Linked DNA regions of Homo sapiens: region 1 is linked to region 2. The links come from fine-mapping of genetic effects on gene expression. A gene starts in region 2. The other region holds a variant in brackets. All regions are shown on one strand. Distances are between the middles of the regions.

Region 1 (2,914 bases), 53 kb before region 2:
CACTCCAGCCTGGGCGACAGAGCGAGAATCTGTCTCAAAAAAAACAAAAAAACAAACAAACAAAAAAATGTACACCAGATCATTTAGGAAAGAGTATTTGAAAATCTACATTTTATAAAAAGTTGTAATGGGGGCATAGAATTGGCTTAATAAAATTTAGGATTTACTGAATGCATAGCTTTGGTGGGGGGTGGGGGTTGGTGTTTTCTGGAAGCATATTCATCATCTTGATTTTTGCTCCTAAGCATTTCTTGAGCAGAATTCTACTAGTGGTAGAAACAGGAGGTCCAGAAAAGTCCTTGGCGACAGACTGAGCTACCAAAGAGCTCTGTGATTAGATTTTTTGCTTCACTGCTGCCCTTTCTTTGGAGATTCCAAGACACTTGAACCTGACCTATCTATACTCTAGTTAGCAGCAAACATTTTCTTTGCTCTACTTACCTGGAAGATATCTTGATTGTTTCAAGTAGTACTGTTTAGAGGTTGGAGCAGTTGACAATTCGGAATCAGATTTTAGGGAAGTAACAGCAGGTAAGCTCTTGTTTTCCCCTGTCGAGTGGTTGGAGCCTGAGGGTACTGGCTCTGGAAGCCTTGAAAGCCAATGAAAGGTAGCATTACAGCACGAACAACGAGAGGATCTCGCCCACCCTCTGCACATCTCGCCCACCCTCTGCACATCTTCCTAAGCCAGTCAATCTGACCTCACTTAAATGGTTTCCATCAGTCTTTTGGCTAAGTGACAACTTCCCCTCCACCCGCGTAGATATTGGGTCGTGCACAGACTCATTTCTGATACCAGTATGTGACAGGAACCTTTATAACTGAGCAGCAATTTACTTGTGTGTAACATGTTTCTATCTGTCCTGCAACGGCTGCAGTTGGATTCATAACGTGGGAAACTGGTGTGCTGAGAGGGAAATAACAGCCATCTTCACCTGTTGACTAAAATAATTTACAATCAATGAGGTTGTTTGGGGCATGGTTTGGATGGCCTAAAAAACTGAAATGGGGAAAGAAGTGCTAGAAAAGCTCCCGTATACAATTTCCCGTCACCCTAGTGTCAGGCACAGAAAATAGGTATTTGTGGAGACATGCCTGTGTCTCAGCCAGAACAGACTTGTGCAGTGGCTAAGCACCTCGCTAGCTGTTTAGTGGTGTTTGTTAGTATTAAGACTGACTCTCTGCCTGTTGGTCCCTAACTCCCACAGTCCTGTTTCTGTGTACGGACTGAGGACTTTCTGCTTCGAGGCTTAGTTCTGTCTCATTCCCGAGGCCTGTCCCTGAGGCCTGTTTGACCAGGCAGCAGTGCGTGAGGCGGCCATTGCTTTGTGTTGCTGCCCATCCCTCTGTGTGCTGTAATGAGCCCTCCACGACCAACCTTCTCCCCACCACCCTCCGACTGGGCTCCTTCTTTGCTGGGGCCTGAATATACTGCCCAATTTCCATCACTTGTTAACTCCAAGCATCCATGGTTTCCACCTAGAAATTCATGCTACCAAACCCTACTCACCAAGTTGGCTCCCTTGGAAATGGATACTCACTTGGGTGGCCCTTTGAACTGCTGGCCACCTGCTTGGGGGCAGTTCTAGGCACAGGTGCG[T/C]CTGCTTCAATGGGAACAGTCCCGCCATTTCTGGCAACTTTCCCTTCCCCTGAGCCCACTGCTGTTATATCACTAACTGAAATTCTACCCATTCCCAAAACTACTCACTCTAAAAAGACTTTTCTGTCCTCATCAGAGGGATCTCTGCCCATAGACAGAACTCCCAGAGCTCCTTGCAGCTGTCACTAGTGGCACTAAATGCACACACTTGTCATGTGTTATAGTCCTCTGGAGGTCTTATTTCTGTTGCCATATATTTGATGAGTTGAAGAGAGGCTTAATTCCAACTAGGTATTTAGTAAACATCTACTGAATATAAATACAAGTATAAATCTAAATATAAATATCTTGCTTTTTGTTCACTTTTAAGAAGACAACCAGGCTGGGTGCAGTGGCTCACGCCTGTAATTCTAGCACTTTGAGAGGCAAAGGCAGGTGGATCACCTGAGATCAGGAGTTTGAGACCAGCCTGGCCAACATGGTGAAACCCTGTCTCTACTAAAAATACAAAAATTAGCTGGGCATGGTGGCGGCCACCTGTAATCCCAGCTACTTGGGAGGCTGAGACAGGAGGATCACTTGAACCCGGGAGGCAGAGGTTGCAGTGAGCCAAGATCGCACCACTGCACTCAGCCTGGGCGACAAGAGCAAAGCTCCATCTCAATCATAATAATAATTTAAAAAATAAGACAACCATTAAATAAAAGGTATACATGTTAGTATTTGGTACTCTGTATTCTTTATGGGGAGGCCCTGGCTGCCTGAGAGACCAAGCAGGGGATGGCAGGGTCTGTTCAATGCACCAGTTCACCTCCTATTCACCACTCCACTAATGCACCAGTTCACCTCCTATTCACCACTCCACTAATGCACCAGTTCACCTCCTATTCACCACTCCACTAATGCACCAGTTCACCTCCTATTCACCACTCCACTAATTCACCAGTTCACCTCCTATTCACCACTCCACTAATTCACCAGTTCACCTCCTATTCACCACTCCACTAATTCACCAGTTCACCTCCTATTCACCACTCCACTAATGCACCAGTTCACCTCCTATTCACCACTCCACTAATTCACCAGTTCACCTCCTATTCACCACTCCACTAATGCACCAGTTCACCTCCTATTCACCACTCCACTAATGCACCAGTTCACCTCCTATTCACCACTCCACTAATGCACCAGTTCACCTCCTATTCACCACTCCACTAATTCACCAGTTCACCTCCTATTCACCACTCCGCTAATTCACCAGTTCACCTCCTATTCACCACTCCGCTAATTCACCAGTTCACCTCCTATTCACCA
Region 2 (2,914 bases):
GTTAAAAACTTGGAATTTTCTACAATCAAGCTATAACATTTATTGACCTTCCTATGGGTTAAAGAAAAAGATGCTTATTTAGAGGCTTAATTATAGACCTACACAAAAATAAATACCCTTATAATTTATCTCTCATTCTAGTTTTCAACTTTTTAATCTAAGTTCATAATTACCGTTTCTCTAAGTGCACAATTGTTGTAAATATAGCCTTTACTCTCAACAGCTTTTGCCAGCTAATAAGAGATTCAGATAGGATTAAAGAAGATTAGCAAAGAGGGCAAATGAAGGGTAAAACAAGCGTCTGCCAAAAACTGAAGAGATAAGGCTTGGATGTCTTCAACGTGGCTTTCTAGAACATATTATGTCACTCCGAGGCTGGCTTAACGCTTCTAATACACAACAAAAGAGTAATTAACGTTTTAAAAGTCACCAAACTCTTTAAAAAGCAACGCAGGAAAAAAAGATCCCAAACTAACCAAGTCGAAGTTTTACAGAAATTAAATGAGCTATTACAATGGGAAAACAAAGACTGTATCTTAAAATATAAAAGCACAGTTCTCTGTGCTCATATTCACAAATTATTTCAAAGCTTATACACAAAAAAAGTCCACCCCGACGAAGAGATTAAACGTCCTGCCCGGTGCCTGCAGTGGAAGCAGGCGGTGGCGCGGTTGGGGGAACTTTCTCCCTCCCGGTCAAGCCTCGGGAATTGAAGGGCCGGGGAGGCGGGGCCCGATCGAAAAGCTGGAAAGTCACTTTTGTTTTCACCATTATTTCACTTAATGGGTTGTGTTTCTGAATAAATAAAGTCAGATAACTTTGGCTTCCCTCTTTGAGAATTCCGTTATCATTAGAACAAATGTCTGTTTCTTTTAAACGATTATCTAACCACATTTGCATACAGCTCTTTCCTTGTAGGATTGAGATTACTAACCACTAAAAACCAGTTTTATTGCTCTCGACACCGCACTCTCGACCTGTCCCTAAATTAAAACGGATTACTTGCAGAAAAGGGACAGTTTTCGTCACACACTTTCTGATCCGACTCTGCAAACCAGGGCTCTTAAAAGGCTCCAGGGACCGCGTGGTGGAAGGAGGGGGCGTCCCCGGGCGCCGGGAGTCCGGCGCCGTTGGGGGGGACGGGGGTGTGCGGAATTCCACTTTCACCTGAGCGTCCTTTGGGATGCACCAGCGAGGGCTGGAGTCGGACCTAATTCCTGTTTTTCTCCCTCCTTTTAGATTTTGCAACAGTTCTGAACTCAGTTCCGCTGCCTCCCTGAGACCCAATCCTGCCTCTCTGTCCTAAAAACAGTTTCCACCGCCAGCCCAAGCAGCAGGGGAGCAGAGGTGGGAGATCCCGGAGGAGAGTTTAGGGGCGGGGGTCTCAGGCTAAGGGACGCCCGGCCGTCATCCTCCCACGCCAGGCCGGCCCCCGCGGTCCAGGAGGCGGGAAAGTGGTCAAGAGGTCTGGGAGACACCGACCGCCTTCCCTCGGGCTGACCACTCCCGCCCGCTCCGCCCCTCCGGGGACCCTCCTCCCTCCAGTCCTTCCCCTACCGGCGTCAGGGACCGGTCTCCGGGCGGAGATTGGCCCTGGTAGCACAGGGCGCCGAGGGGACATGCCCGGCCAGCCTCGCAGGTCGGGCTCCGGCTGGGTCGGACAGAGGGTGGTGGCCCTGCAGCCCGCTGGGGATTACCTGTCCGCGCCTGCTGCTTACCTCGTTCGCTCCCTTGTGAAGCTCCGGCGTCTTGTGTGTTTCATCTCCTAGGAAACGGCGGGGGCAGCAGGCGGGCCTACGGCCGGCCCAGAGAGGGCGTGGCCTCGCGGGAAATCCCCGCCAATTCCCGCAGGCCCCGCCTTCCCCGGGGCGGGGCTTCATGGAGCCGGGGGACTGTCGGCTGAGCTGCAGCAAGTGTGCCATTTAGACTTGGGGTTTAGGGGAGTTGATTACCTTTTCAGTCAGGTCTTTGTCAGAAGTTGGTTTGTTTGCCCTTTATTTTGTTTTGGTTTTGTTCCGATTCATTCTACAAAGTCTTGATTAATTAAAATATGGTTCCCAGACCGGGCAGAGCAAGAGAAGGAAGTCTGTTTGCCTCATACTTGCACTTGTTTACTTGTGCCTGGGGAAAAACTGTTCTTGTATGCAGTTCCTTAAATTGGTCAATTCCTTGGGTATGTATTACCTCTTGAGCTGCCCTTCTAAGTTTGTTTCCATTTATTCATTCAGAGAACCTGCCTAGTATCAGCCACAGAGTTAGATAGTGGTAATTCCAAGAAAAATGACTGAATGTGTGAATAAATGGGTAAATTGTAACTAGTCTAGAATTTAGAGAGGAAGGCACACTTGTGTTACTGCAAATAGTTCAGATTGGCTGGCAAAAAGGGTCTACGAAACAGAAACATAAGTGATGAAGCAGTGGTGCGGCAAGTTAGTAATTATTAGGTGTCAGGATGTGGGCTTGGGACCAAGAATAGCGCCAAGGTAGACACGACAGACATGCCTGTGGCCCTCACAGCTTAAAGTGAAGTAGGCTTTCACGCGTATGTTTATGGCAGCACAATTCACAATTGCAAAGATGTGGAACCAATCTAAGTGCCCATTGACTAATGAGTGGATAAAGAAAATGTGGTATATATACACCATAGGCTGCTACTCAGTCACAAAAAAAGAATGAAATAATGTCTTTTGCAACAACTTGGAAGAGTGGGAGGTCCTTATTCTACGCAAAGTAATACAGGCGTGGAAAACCAAAAACTGTATGTTCTCACTTATAAGCAAAAGCCAAGCTATGAGTATGCAAAGGCATACACAGTGAAATAATGGACTTTGGAGACTCAGAAAGGGGAGGATGGGAGAGAGCCTAGGGATAAAAAAAACTATGCACTAGGTACCATATACACTACTCAGATGAT

The links.
Region 1: its variant is fine-mapped to the expression of MAK in whole blood (TOPMed, PIP above 0.99).

The regions. Positions count from the first base shown.
Region 1 is chr6:10,783,983-10,786,896 of GRCh38, forward strand. MAK (male germ cell associated kinase) reads right to left here. Exons shown (of 15, transcript NM_001242957.3): 11 at 442-590. Among named protein-coding and RNA genes, the nearest start is that of TMEM14B, 38 kb to the left of the region's middle. The variant T/C (reference allele first, on the strand shown) is at 1,601.
Region 2 is chr6:10,836,785-10,839,698 of GRCh38, forward strand. It overlaps MAK (male germ cell associated kinase), which reads right to left and starts at 1,755. Exons shown (of 15, transcript NM_001242957.3): 1 at 1,719-1,755. RefSeq lists a silencer at 1,818-1,947 and enhancers at 2,168-2,227, 2,278-2,437.